4 linked regions of the Homo sapiens genome follow. The protein of the gene in region 2 purifies or fractionates together with the protein of the main gene of each other region. This does not show direct contact. Each region holds a gene or a part of one and is shown on either strand. Other genes may lie near its edges.

Evidence for each region. The genes of interacting proteins can lie anywhere in the genome.
Region 1: the proteins of NSRP1 (region 2) and CPSF2 purify together in Homo sapiens (affinity purification with mass spectrometry, with the first as the bait; one large-scale study listed by BioGRID). This does not show direct contact.
Region 3: the proteins of NSRP1 (region 2) and CCNT2 purify together in Homo sapiens (affinity purification with mass spectrometry, with the first as the bait; one large-scale study listed by BioGRID). This does not show direct contact.
Region 4: the proteins of NSRP1 (region 2) and PRP4K purify together in Homo sapiens (affinity purification with mass spectrometry, with the first as the bait; one large-scale study listed by BioGRID). This does not show direct contact.

The regions. Positions count from the first base shown.
Region 1 is NC_000014.9:92,135,469-92,138,968, reverse strand, and holds part of CPSF2 (cleavage and polyadenylation specificity factor subunit 2), read right to left. Parts: coding exon 3,473-3,500; intron 738-3,472; coding exon 622-737; intron 1-621. UniProt on the Homo sapiens protein: Component of the cleavage and polyadenylation specificity factor (CPSF) complex that play a key role in pre-mRNA 3'-end formation, recognizing the AAUAAA signal sequence and interacting with poly(A) polymerase and other factors to bring about cleavage and poly(A) addition.
Region 2 is NC_000017.11:30,178,225-30,183,442, reverse strand, and holds part of NSRP1 (nuclear speckle splicing regulatory protein 1), read right to left. Parts: intron 4,354-5,218; coding exon 4,146-4,353; intron 2,536-4,145; coding exon 2,427-2,535; intron 1-2,426. UniProt on the Homo sapiens protein: RNA-binding protein that mediates pre-mRNA alternative splicing regulation.
Region 3 is NC_000002.12:134,956,822-134,959,842, reverse strand, and holds the end of CCNT2 (cyclin-T2), read right to left. Parts: 3' UTR 501-3,021; downstream 1-500. UniProt on the Homo sapiens protein: Regulatory subunit of the cyclin-dependent kinase pair (CDK9/cyclin T) complex, also called positive transcription elongation factor B (P-TEFB), which is proposed to facilitate the transition from abortive to production elongation by phosphorylating the CTD (carboxy-terminal domain) of the large subunit of RNA polymerase II (RNAP II).
Region 4 is NC_000006.12:4,059,300-4,062,391, reverse strand, and holds part of PRP4K (serine/threonine-protein kinase PRP4 homolog), read right to left. Parts: intron 1,980-3,092; coding exon 1,776-1,979; 3' UTR 1-1,775. UniProt on the Homo sapiens protein: Serine/threonine kinase involved in spliceosomal assembly as well as mitosis and signaling regulation. Connects chromatin mediated regulation of transcription and pre-mRNA splicing.

The sequences.
Region 1 (3,500 bases), on a different chromosome or scaffold from region 2:
TCTTATACAAAAACTGATGGTCACATAATATTTTTTTCAAAAATACTAAAGTTAACCAATCTCTTATGACCAAGAAAAGTGCTAAACAGAATACAGTCATTCCCACTACCATGCATTTCCACAGCTCCTTGAAAAGGACATTATACATTGGGTACAACATTCACGATTCTGGAGACGGATACAGTAAAAGGCCAAACTTCACCACTGTGCAACGTATGCATTAAGAAACCTATACTTGTGGCCGGGCGTGGTGGCTCATGCCTGTAATCCCAGCACTTTGGGAGGCCAAGGCAGGTGGATCACCTGAGGTCAGAAATTCAAGACCAGCCTGGCCAACATGGAGAAACCCTGTCTCCACTAAAAATACAAAAATTAGCTGGGCGTGGTGGTGCACACCTGTAATCCCAGCTACTCGGGAGGCTGAGGCACAAGAATCACTTGAACCCAGGAGGCGGAAGTTACAGTGAGCCGAGATCGCGCCACTTCACTCCAGCCTGGGTGAAAGAGCGAAAGTCCGTCTCAAAAAAAAAAAGAAACCTGTACTTTTATGTACTTATATTCCCTAAATATACAAAAAGTTACAAAATAATAATAATAATAAGGACGTGAAAGAATACGTACTCAGAAGCTGCTCATCTCTCTGTTTTCTTCTAGGCTGTACATATGTAGCATTGAATGAATCTGTGATAAGTAGGGAAGGCCTGCTTAGCATTTCCAGGGAACATCCATTTAAATGGCTATAAGAAAGTTTAAGAAGAGGAATATTTTATATCATTTCAAGTAAACAATAATAGCTTCTCTTACTTAAAAAATAAGCAGCTTCATTTATAAGGTGTTCCCTCCTCTAACTATAAAAGTAGACATGCTCATTGATAAGAAATCCAGTAACTTCAAAAAAGTATAAAGAAGAAAATAAAAATCTTCCAGAGTACCATTACTCAGAGATAACTGACATAATATTTTGGTGTACATCCTGCTAACCATATAAGTTTTTCTATGCACATATGTATTTTTTTTATTTTTCTTTTTGCCCTGTCTTATGGTAAGTACTGATATACATATGTATTTTACAAAGCTGATATCCCATATACATTCCTATACGCTCAGTTCTATATCCTGGTTTTTACCCAGGACATAAAAATTTTTTTCTAAACTAAATGTTTAACAGTTATAAAAACATTTTATTGTGTCTACACTGTATTTGATCCTTTCCCTTTACTGATATTTCGGTCACTTATTTTTGCCATTATAATCTTCCAAAGAACATTTTTTACAAAAGCTTCAATTGCATTTCTGATTGTTTCTTTAGGTCACATTCCTAAAAATGTATTTACTGTTAATACATAGTACTGCTAAAAGGCTTTCCAGCAAGATTTAACCTCATCCAGAAAAGTTCAATCAAAAAGACTGACCAATTCTACATACTTCCCAGAAGAAAATCACCATTTAAAAATAATTTTGGACTAGTGCAGTGGCTCATGCCTGTAATCCCAACACTTTGGGAGACAGAGGTGGGCAGATCACTGGAGCCCAGTAGTTCAAGACCAGCCTGGGCAGCATGGCAAAACCTCATCTCTACTAAAATTACAAAAATAGCCAGGCATGTTAGAGCGCACCTGTAGTCCTAGCTACTTGGGAGGCTAAAATGGGAAGATTGCTTGAAGCTGGGAGGTCGACACTACAGTGAGCCGTGATTGTGCCTCCAGCCTCGGTGACAGAGTGAGACTCTGTTTCAAAAAAATACATAAAAATATAAATAAGAATAATAATAATTTTAATGGTATCTAACAAAAAAAGATCATTTAAATTTTCTCTTTTGACTTTATAACTTTTGTCCATCTTGCAACTGGTATATTTTTATTAATAAATTAATACTTGATCTTATATATATGTTGTAAGTTTTTGGGCAACTTGCTGCAAATATTTTCCTACTTTGATTTTTTTTTTTATTTGTTGTTTCAGACATTTGAACCTGTATGTCATCAAATCTATCAAACTTTTACTTTGTAACTTGGTTCATTATTTTTATGCTTACAAAGTCTTTTCCAAATCAGAGATCAGACTCACCAATATTGCTTCATTTCTATTTAGTTCTAATCCATCTGAAATTTCTTTTGTTATATAATTAAAAGGACACAAATTGATTTTTTTCCAAAATGGTTGAATCCTTCAATACCATTTACTCAAATAGCCATGCTGCAGTTTGCCACGGTTACTACGAGACTGAACGAAGGAGGACGAATGCAGAAATGAAAACTTAAAACAAAAGTAACTATTTTAAAGGAAGGGGTCAGGAGAAGAAGAAGAGAGCTCCCTGCTTCTAGTGAGCAAAGGGAGCTGCCTTCAGCTTCTACAGCCCTTCATATTTATTGGGTAGAAAGAGCAGGGAGGACGAGGTAACAATTGGTCAGCTGCTTAATTGATCACAGGTTCACATTACTGCTAACAGGCTTCAGATGTGTCTAATCACAAGAAACACCTGCACCTGAGGCCTGACTGCCCTCAGCATTCCTTCTGGGTGGCAGACACAGTTTGTCAGTTTGCCAATTTTCTGCGTTTATGCGAACAGTTTGCTGTTTACTCATATAGCCTCCAGTGGTATACTGAGTTGATCACGACCCTCACTCTTTTGCCCTGCAACATAGCCATCCTTTCCTCATTAATCTATGGTTATAAGTGTCTAAAATTCAGTCTATTTGTCTTAAATATTTCTTAATATAAAGATCCTGAGACTATTGTAATGTAACACAAAATAGCTATGAACTTAATGTACAGATAAAACAAAACGAGCCTGTAAGAGACTAAACACCAAAATATTATATAGTAATGCTCTGAGTGCCACATGAAGTGTGTAAAATCATAACTAGAATTGAGTTCCCTTTCAAAGGGACTAACTTTAAACATACAGGGCAGTTATATTAGATGGTAATTACATTATGTGCAAGGCAACTCCTGTTTCTAAAACTATCAGATCTCGTGAAACCCATTCACTATCACAAGAACAGCACGGGAAAGACCCAACCTCATAATTCAATCATCTCCCACCGGGTCCCACCCACAACATGTGGGAATTATGGGAGCTATAAGATGAGATTTGGGTGGGGACACAGAGCCAAACCATATCACGTTACAAAACAAAAGAACAACCCATCCACAAAGTTGTGTTAAATAGCAGGTCAAGAACATGTAATTTGATACGTAAAAAATTCATCTCCTTTGCAACATCTCCAGGGAGATACCCGTTTTGTAGAGTGTATACTTAACCTATAAATTTTTAAAATCTCTTATGTCTTATACCATACTTTCCCCCTTACTATGCAAATAATTAATTTTGAAAACACTCCCTATTTGACGGTTTTAAGTTGCTCTAAATTTCTGGTAACCAAAACAAAAACTGTGTTTCTTATTTTTTCTCCAAAGAATAAAATAATACCAATTGCATTGCCTTTAGCTTTTCTCTTGATATACCTACATCTCCCTCTTGTGGTTGAAGTCAACTG
Region 2 (5,218 bases):
ATAACGTAATATAATTTCCATTCAAAACCTGAATCTTCAAATACATTTTCTTAGGTTCATACTTCTCACCAATTTTATAATCAAAGCCTAGCAGCGTAGGGAGGGAGTGGGGCATAAACTTCCTCTCCTCACCTTAATTCTATTCTCCTACCTCTTCCCTTCCTTAGCAACACAGACTCAGATCTACCCAGAACATTCCTGTTAAAAAAAATTTTTTTTTTTTTGCTTAGGACAGACTCTTTTACCTTCAGCTACATAATTATGGCATAATCATCTCACCATTCCTATAATACCTTATAACTTTATTCAAAAATCCTCTAATCCTTTACCTTCTAGACCAGCATTAATAGAAATGCCTCAAGAAATGGTAATGTTCATATGTGAGCTGTCCCCAGTATGGCAACCACCAGCCAAATATGGCAACTGAGTATATGAAATGTGGCCGCTGTGATCAAAACTTTAAATTTTATTTACTTAATTTTATTATTTATTTATTATTATTATTTTTTGAGACAGAGTCTTGCACTGTCACCCAAGCTGGAGTGCAGTGGCGCAATCTCAGCTCACTGCAACCTCCGCCTCCTGTGTTCACGCCATTCTCCTGCCTCAGCCTCCCAAGTAGCTGGGACAACAGGCGCCCGCCACCACGCCTGGCTAATTTTTTGTATTTTTAGTAGAGACGGGATTTCACCGTGCTGGCCAGGATGGTCTCAATCTCCTGACCTCGCAATCCGCCCGCCTTGGCCTCCCAAAGTGCTGGGATTATAGGCATGAGCCACCGTGCCCAGCCATTTTATTTTTTGAGATGGAGTCTGGCTCTGTCGCCAGGTTGGAGTGCAGTGGCGCTATCTCAGCTCACTGCAATCTCCGCCTCCCGAGTTTAAGCAATTCTCCTGCCTCAACCTCCCCAGGAGGTGGGATTACAGGCATGTGCCACAATGCCGAGCTAATTTTTGTATTTTTAGTAGAGACAGGGTTTCACCATGTTGGCCAGGATGGTCTCCATCTCCTGATCTCATGATCCACCTGCCTCAGCCTCCCAAAGTGCTGGGATAACAGGCGTGAGTCACTGCGCCCAACCTACTTTATTTACTTTAAATTAATTTAAGTAGCTACACGTGACTAGTGCCTACATACTAACAGTGCAGTTCTAGCCCCGATATGTAAGTCTTACATTTTAGGAAGGCTGGGTTCTATTTATGAAAACAAACCACTTTCCTTTTTATACACTATCTGAACATGTATATAAGACTTATATTGTAGACACCTAATTCTTTCCAACTTTCTCCTTAATTCTGACAGCAAAATCATTTTAAGGTACCAGGCACCAATCATTTTAAGGATCATGAGGAATACCCACATTCTTATTTAAAAAAAAAAAAAAAAAAAAAAAAGCAGCCAGGTGCAGTGGCTCATACCTGTAATCCCAGCACTTTGGGAGGCTGAGATAGAGGGGGGATCCCTCAAACCCAGGAGTTCAAGACCAGCCTGGGCAACATAAAGCCCCATCTCCACAACAAAAATACAAAAAGAGGCTGGGCGTGGTGGCTCATGCATATAATCCCAGTACTTTGGGAGGCCGAGGCGGGTGGATCACCTGAGGTCAGGAATTCGAGACTAGTCTGGCCAACATGGTGAAACTCCATCTCTACTAAAAATACAAAGATTAGCCGGGCGTAGTGCATGCACCTATAGTCCCAGCTACTCAGGAAGCTGAGGCACGAGAATCCCTTGAACTTGAGAGGCAGAGGTTGCAGTAAGCAGAGATCGCGCCATTGCACTCCAGCCTGGGTGACAGAGCAAGACTCCATTCCATCTAAAAAAAAAAAAAACAAAAAAAAAAAACCACACACACAACAACAACAACAAAAAACACAAAAAGAAAATTCGCTGGGCATGATGGCTTGCACCTGTAGTCCCAGCTACTTGGGAGGATCATTTGAGCCCATGAGGCAAAGGCTGCAGTGAGCTATGATTGAACCACTGTACTCCATCCACCCTAGGCGACAGAGTGAGACTCTGCCTCAAAAAAAAAAAAAAAAAAGAAAAAAGAAAAAACTACAATTTGATTTTGCTTTCCCTTGAAGATTTTGCTCTCCCTTGTTAAGACCCATAAATCACTTAAAAATTCAGAAACTTTATACATTAAAAGTCTGTCTTTGGTTTTACAATAATATTAAACTCAATCACTGTTTTAATGTAACAATTTCTGTGAAATGCAGAATAAAAATGATCTTAAACTAAATCTGTAGGTTTTAAAATCAAGAAACTGCAAATTTCTAGCCATTCATTCAGTTAGGTAAGGCTGGCTGACAACACAATATGCAATGTTGTAATCTTCCATCTTTCAGAGGGTTAAAATGACCCCACAACCACAGATTATTAACAGTATTTTTCTTCAAAATATTTCATACACGTCTCCTCACCTGGCTTCACGAAAGCTGCATTTAGGTACTTCCTCTTCACCAACTGCTTGATTTAATAGGTGCCTATAAAATCCACTGAGATCTTTCTGCTTGGTTACATCCAAACATGCTAACAGAGGGAAAGCAAAAATTAGAATATATTCAATAAGGCACAGTGCAGTTTCATTTTACAGACATACAGTATATAACATACAGTGTGTAAACTACTCGCTGGATCAGGAGTTGGCAAACTGCAGGCCAAATCTGGCCTGTTGCCTGTTTTCATAAATAAATTTTTATTGAAACAAAGCCCTGTTCATTTATGTATTGTCCACAACTGCTTTTGTACTACAAAGGCAGAGCTCAGTAACTGCGACAGAGATCATATACACAAAAAGCCCTAAAGTATGAATATGATCTGGCATTCAAAATATGAATTTATAAATTTAAAGTCTTAAAATATGAATACTAAAATACTATCTGGTCCTTTACAGAAAGTTTGCCGACTGGCACTCTAAACACATAGTACATGCTTAGACAGAATGTTATAGACTTGGTTTTCTTCTACTTAAAAGCTGAAGAGGATGGGCGCAGTGGCTCACGCCTGTAATCCTACAACTTTGGGAGGCTGAGGTGGGTGGATCACCTGAGCTCAGGAGTTCGAGACCAACCTGGCCAACATGGTAAAACTCCGTCTCTATAAAAATATAAAAATTATCCAGGTGTGGTGGTGCATGCCTGTAATCCCAGCTACTTGGGAGCCTGAGGCATAAGAATCACTTGAACTTGGGAGGCAGAGGTTGCAGTGAGCCAAGATCATACGACTGCACTCCAGCCTGGGCGACACAGCGAGACTCTGTCCAAAAAGCTGATGAGCATTTGTCAATTAAAGTATTTACAGGGCTGGTCATGGTGGCTCACACCTGTAATGCCAACACTTTGGGAGGCTGAGGCAGGAAGATTGCTTGAGCCCAGGAGTTCGAGACCAGCCCCGGCAACATAGTGAGACCCCGTCTCTACAAAAAATACAAAAAGTAACCAGACGTGGTGGTATGTTCCCGTAGTCCCAGCTACTCAAGAGGCTGAGGTGGGAGGATCACTGGAGCCTGGGAGGTCAGGGCTGCAGTGAGCCATGGTTGAGCCACTGCACTCCAGCCTGGGTGACAGAGACCCAGTCTCAAAAAAAAAAGTATTTTATAAATACATATTCTACTTAGATCTTGAGAAATAATCATGAGTAGAAAGCACTAAGGTAAAGCATTAAGATATTCTTAATTCATCCAATTTTTATTCTTTCTTCAATTAATGTTATTCTTTTTCTAATTGCCTCATTGATCCTCCTTGAGTGGTGTTACTCTATTATTTTCTCATCCCAAAAAAATGTAACTAGGGTTTAAAATTATATTTATATTGTTTCTGACAAATGCCATGGCGTTATACTTTGTAATAAATGTTTTTACATTTCAGATCATGTTCTAAGGCAAAAGCCACAAAATGAGAACTAAGAGAAAAGTCTAGTAGAAATAATAGTTACTGAAGAGTTCAACTGTGTTTTTAGTTAAACTTTCCTTTCTGTTTTATACTGCTATATAATACCATATTCCTTGTGTCTTGAATTCCTATATATAAATTATGATCACAAACTCATAACCCTAAAGTTCAGTGACAGAGCAAACAGCTAACCACAGGGGAGAGATTCTGCTACTGTTTCCTTGTGCCTTTCCCACTCTTTCATTTTACCTTCCAGTGCAGCAGCCCTCTTTTCTCTTTCTTCTTCTTCAGCTCTCTCTTGCAGTTTTTTCTTATATGCAGATGTCACAAATGCTTCTTTATCATCAAACTCCCCCTTTTCCATTTCTCGTTCTCTCTGTATTTTCTTTTCCATTCTTTTTTCCTGTTCCTTTTTTCTGATCTCAACTGCTTTTAGCAAGTTGTGAATATACTTGGGCTAAGGAAATAAAAAAGATTTAGGAAAAGAGTAAAAAAATAGTAATTGTTAATATTATAATTTTTATAATGAATTCATTAAGATAGAAATGATTGGCCCAAATAAGATTGTCTTCCCTACATTCAATATAAACTTACTAGCAAGATTAATATTGAAACTGTTTTCCATAAAAATTTAGGTGTAGCAGAGATAGAAATTGTTTATAATGCGATTTAACTTTAATAAAACATCAAACTAAATATAATTTTTTTCTTTTTTCTGGTATTATCTTAATTAAAAAAAAATCAGAAAAGTTCCTGCTAGTTTTTCACATTTAGTAGAAATATGACTATTTAAAATAGTAGCTTAATATAATTTTATACCATCACTCTACTAGTAGATAACTGTCAGATGCAAATGCCCTTAAAAATCAGCCTGTGCTTGTGAAAGAACAAGAGTTGATAGAAAGAAAATCTGAACTTATTTCAGTTTTTACCCCTCCCAAATTTTTTTCTCACTGAAAATAAAATCATGATAGGTGCAGGCAGATGATTCAGTTACCAGCTAGGAAGAAATGAAAAAATGAGAGGGTAATAAAACACAAATAAACATACACAGGGCAGGAACAGTACAAATTTGGTACATTAGAATTCCAAGGAAAAGTTTTCAAAAAACTATTTGCAAAGGTTTCAAAGCAAAAAGCAAAATTGTTAGATAATTCACCTGGCCTATTAGGATAATATGTAGTGCTGCTTGAGTTCTACAATCAAATTTGTAATATCTGGAATTAGGGACTCTTCACACCTCACATACCTAAAAGCTTTTTCTCAGATCATTCTCATGTTAAAATAAGATTAAGACACAAAATGTAGGTCAAGGTCAAAGA
Region 3 (3,021 bases), on a different chromosome or scaffold from region 2:
CCAATGCCATTCTGTTATTAAATGGTAGGGCTGAGACTAGAGCATGGACCATTTGATCCCAGAGCCTGCACTCCTGAATGATACATGAAATTACTTGGATAAAGGGTCAATTATACTAGAGATCTCACATTTTCCAGGGACTGAAAGTTACTTCTGTTTTTGTTGTTGTTAAGGAATCTTGCTCTGTCGCCCAGGCTGGAGTGCAGTGGTGCGATCTCGGGCTCTCTGCAACCTCTGCCTCCTGGGTTCAAGCGATTCTCTTGCCTCAGCCTCCCGAGTAGCTGGGATTACAGGCATGCACCACCACACCCGGCTAATTTTTGTATTTTTAGTAGAGACAGGGTTTCACCATGTTGACCAGGGTTGTGTTGAACTCCTGACCTCAGGTTATCCGCCTGCCTTGGCCTCCCAAAGTGCTGGGATTACAGGCATGAGCCACTGCGCCCCACCTCAAAGTTACTTCTGATTCACATTAACTTAAGACATGTTAGAGCCTTGGATTTATGTTGTCAATAAACATTTTATTAGTTCCTTGTATGGATAAGAAGCTTAAAGTCAATGACTAATTCATGCCATATACACATATTCCTGTTTTAGATTTTCTATTAGCAAACATCCTGTTCAATTGTTGTTGGGAGTTTTGAGTACATTCAGAAAATGAAACCCCACAATCACTGTTTACAACAAATGAGTATGTATTTTTCCTAATAAAATGAAGCTGCTTGAAAAAAACATACCTTAAAATTAAGAATGTACTCATCACTTAATAAGAATGTACTCATTATTAAACAATAGGCAAATCAAACAAACTACTAAAGTGGCAATGCTCGGGATTTTGAGTTTCCGCCCCAAACTTGAAAATAAAGTAGACAGCCCTCAAACTTTGAGATAAATGGATTCCACAGTGAAGTTAAGTTGCCTATACGAGAACAGAATTACTCCTAGCCATTCAATCTTCGATGGATCTTATCAACCTACTTAATCAATCTGTCAGGCAGAATAGGTAACAGTAAATTATAAAGAAGGTGCCACAGAGGTAAAAACTGGCTGTGCCCAAATTGACACTGCAGAGCAGAAAATTAATGTATGATATTAGGTCTAAAACATTTTGAGCTTTTCAGTCCCACTGGCAAAATGTATTACAAAAATAGATGCTCCAGGGAAACTAACAAAAGCAACCTTTTGATTTCGGCTTCCATGTATGTCAGCTTACAGCAATTAGGTTGCTCACTGATTTCTGATATTAACGTATCAGAATGTGATTCTCAAATTAGTATCATAGCTTGGTACCCAAGGTCAGAGAATGTGCTGCTTTTCCAATGCAAAAATCCCTATCTAAATAAGTCCATCTTAGGGCACATGAGATTAGCACCTATTGTCCTGTCAACTCATTTAGTTTAAGTGTGAGATTTGTTGATCCCTCATCTGGGTAAAGGTAGTCAGTGAATCCTACTGTCTCCCTTCAAGACAGCCTCTGAGGCAGTAATCAGGTTAGAAATACTGAATCCATGATTCTTCCTAACAAGAGCCTCCAAATATTCTCAGCAAAGACATCCTAAATTTAAGCAGATATGCTTTTCATTTGGATAAAATTGGAAATGGTGTAATACCTTGAGAGAATGGTTTTCCTAAGACGTTACCATGTTAAAAAAGTCCCCATGTCTATAGAAAATGCAAAACCCTGAAATATCTAATCAACTAACTGTACTCATGAAATGCATAATATTCATGCAGATATAAGCAGTGGTTTATTTCTAAGGTTGCTTAACGAATACAAGTCAGCAATTTAAGTTCTCAAATAGAAAAGAAAATGTGCTTGAAACCTTTTAAGGCAATGGTATTTTGTACTAACAAAAACATTTCATATTGGTTCTCTGAAATAGCCCTCAAGTAGTCATTTCTAGTTCAAAGAGGATAGGCCAAAAAAATTAGGTATTCTATTAATTATTAATACAATCTGTTGCTACAAAGCAATATACGCAGCCACTCATGACATTCAAGAAACCATACATCATGTTAGAAATTTCTTTTAGATGACTCTGAATAAGAACTTTAACCAGAAGGAATCTGAACACACGGAGGAAGACCAAGGTGCACATTTAACTGCTTTCAAAGATAAACCTAGGGCTGACAACAGGACTTTTTTGGTATTTACATACCTGCAATTAGGAAACTGTGAGGTTTTACCACTACCGGATACTGCCGCCCGTTAAGTAGGCCTCTAAGAATGTTTCAGTGAACAAACCACCCTTTGCTTTGGTTCTGAAAATACCTATTTTGAAATAGCTAAGGCAAATATTCAGAGGGACACAGCTCAATATTGGAAAACTGAATGGAAGAGGTAGAAATAAAGCCTTTCTTTGCAATGTGCTTCTGTGTAAAGGTAACAAATCAGTGATCTAGGGAAAACACAACTTAAAAATGACTCACTCTTTTATAGGATGTTTAAAGATAATGCTTTTTAATATTTCAAATATTTTTTTAAATCTCATCAAAAATGTTATCACCTTAACAGTACTTTGCACATGTGGAATTTCATACCTAAATTTGATACTATTTTGGTTTATTTATGGCTACTTACAAGAGTCACAGTAATAATGTCCACTCATCAGAGTCTTTCTTTGGTAGAGCCTAATGGGACCAGACAGATGAACTGTTATGCAAATGAGATGGATAAAGCAAATTCATGATAGTATGAATTATAAGGGTTTTTGTTTAATGGAAATACAACTTAAAAAGGATTTCCATATTTATCCCCATCATTATTTTGGAAGCTTAATACCCTGTTCAGGGGTTGAAGAGTTTGAATAGCTCACACAATCCTGTAAAAATGACAACTGGCTGCCCTTTAATAAATAAAGTCATTGTAAAGAATTACATTTACAGAGTGAAAAGTGAATACATAGCATTTCAAATTCAATTTTGGAAGTACTAATAAGTACTGACCCATAACAATATACACTAGCTATCTTTTTAACTGTCCATCATTAGCACCAATGAAGATTCAATAAAATTACCTTT
Region 4 (3,092 bases), on a different chromosome or scaffold from region 2:
AAATTCCTTTGTGTTGCAAAACCAAGCTGATTTAAACGATTTTGTCTTAAATTGTTGCTAAATGTTTATCTACACATGCTGTCAGAAATAACCTTGTTAAGAAGGTGAAGCTGGTGTCTCAGCAAATCAGACCCCTTGGAGAAGGCGTCGAATGGCCTGTGCCCCGTTTTCCTTTTTCTCTTTCCGCACCATCAAAAGGAAAAGTGAGAAAATAGCAGAAACATTAGTTAAATCCTGAATTATACCCCATAACCTACAGGAATAATCTCACTACACTGAAAGCTGACAATATTTGTAGGATTTTTTGAAATAATTAGGATCCTAATTATTAATAAACTGGTAATTTTGGCTAGGTTTACATCTTTAACTAATAATACTTTCAATTAAAAACTTTCAGGAAAAAAACAAAAGGTTGCTTTTAACTATTTATGGTTTACCTGACTTACCAGCACTGAAGACAAAAACTTTTAAAAATGGCTACAAATGCCTTGTTCACAAAAGACTTTATTATCTAGTGATGCATACTGAGAACATACAGAAATCTGCATGGTCCACTTCACATGCAGTAGAACAATCTTCACTTTACAATAAGTGAGTGTCAACTGTTTTATGCAATAGACAACACTTTAAAGTCACATTCTTAAAGAAAAGCTTCATTTACAAAAGAAATAAAAGGTAAAGAAGCAATTACCGCTTTTAAAAAGCAGCTGCTTTGTTCAAGAGTGGAAGGTTTATGCCTGTATTGAAAGACAACATGATCACAAATAATGAAAACAATGAACAAATGAAAAACACTTTTACCATAAAGCAGTACACTTTCAAAATGACATACAAATAGTTAAAAATTTCATTACGTTGTCTAGCCTTTAAATATGAGGACTTTCAGAATTAGGCCTCAACATTTGTAATTAGTAAATGAAAACTACGCATCGTTTCTATGTCACTAGGAACTATATTTAACAAAATGTATATAAAGTCTATAGCAAGTTGATTTAAAAAAAGTAAAGTTAATAAGAAACAGTACACTGAAGGCGCTCTATCCATCAAGCGCGTTCTCTTCCAATTTTAAATGTGATGAACAAACAGAAATTGTAACTATGCCACAGTTGCAATGCCAAAAAATAAAACAAGATCAGTTATCACACATGCAGGGAATTCTGCCACAAAGCTAACATCCCTCATTTGTCAGTTGTTCCAATAAAATAACATCTTAAAACACCAGAGATGTTGATGGTTTAGCTTACCTTCAGTGTACTGAATGCTGCACACAACCTGCTTTAAAAGGAGACCATCCCTGCAGGCAGGCTCAAGAAGGAACAGACCCCTTTCGGCACTGACTACACCAAGGGCATGCTGCTGTGGCCTGCACACACACACCTAGGAAAACGTGAATATAAACAGCATTTATGCTGGCCATTTTATCTCAAGACCAAAATGAAGCCAAGTCTGCTAAGAACAAATCAACCACCCAATATTACTACTCATTTCATAACAGATGCTTTTGTCTTTATGTGAACTGCAACCATATACATTAGCACTGTAATTTTGTGCAGTCTTGGCAATTTAAAACAGTCTACAGTGAAATTTCACGTAAGACACAAAACAGATTAACTAACATCTCTAAAAGAAATATCACCCTTGGTGTTAATTCAAATATATCATGCTTCCTCAAATTTGCTGGAGAAATATTTATAAGTTTATATACATTAATAAACTGCTGTGAAATTTCTTCAGTCTTTGTATTTACTCAAACCCTTGGAGTTTCTTCATCTTGTTTAAATTTTTTCCTGGATGAAGGCGTGCTGTAGGGCCTGGTTGATGCTAATTCGTTTAGCTGGGTCCAACATCAGAATCTGGTCCAACAAGTCCTTTAGCTGGTGTACTTTCTTACGTTGGTCTTCAGGAAGTCTCTGGCACCCAATCAAGTCAGCCAACAGGTCCTTAGTTGGATTAATGGTGCTCATAACAGTAACTTTCTCCTAAAAATAATTTTTAAAATGCGTATCTCTAAATAAGTTACTAAGCATATACAACTTAAATCAGATTGTTTTGGGGTCTATCAAAAATATTAAAAACATGCATATACATACAAAATATATACACACAGTGCACATTTTGGGCAATGACAGACTGCATATATGACAGTGGTCCCTTAAGATTGGAATACCGTATTTTTGCTCTCCCTTTTCTATGTTTAGATACATACATACACTTACCACTTGCAAAAGTGCCTACAGTATTCAGTCCACCAACTTACAGTTCAGGCCTAGAAGCAAAAGGCCATACTACTTACCCTAGATGTGTGTGAGTGTATGCTGTGGTTATGTGACGCATGACTGTATCATCATCATCTATTCATTTAAAACTTTGCTGTGGTTTCCTCTATGCTGTACATCTTTTTAAAAGGTAACCAAAAAACTTAAATGAAAAAGTTGATGCCAACTCTGGGCTGGGCGCGGTGGCTCACACCTGTAATCCCAGCACTTTGGAAGCCCAAGGTAGGTGGATCACTTGAGCTCAGGAATTCGAGACCAGCCTGGGCAACACTGCAAAACCCATCTCTACTAAAAATACAAAAATTATCCAGGCGTGGTGGCACACAATTGTAATCCCAGCTACTCGGGAGGCTGAGGCATGAGAATTGCTTGAACCTGGGAGGCAGAGGTTGCTGTGAGCCAAGATCGTGCCATTGCACTTCACCCTGGGTGACAGGTGACAGAGCGAGACTCAGTCTCAAAAAAGAAAAAAAAAGTCAACTCCAAGTTAGCAATGAAAATTTACAATAAGATAAGCATGAGCTGTTTGCACTGTACTTTCCCTACCTTGAAGTGGTAAGTGACAGACATGTGAATAAGTTAATACCCTGAAGTATTATTAAGTGCTCTGACAAAGACAGGGACATATGCTATAATAATGGGACAAAAATAAGGAAATCATTACTTCAATCTGGGAGTTTTCAAAAGGCTCATACAGAATGTGTATTTCAGCTGAGGCTTGAAGATGATACATTTTTTAGGGGGTTGGGGGTGAGGCAGCACAGGAAATGACTAAGCTCAGGGAGGTCTGTTAGCAAAGGCACAAAGGTCTGAACC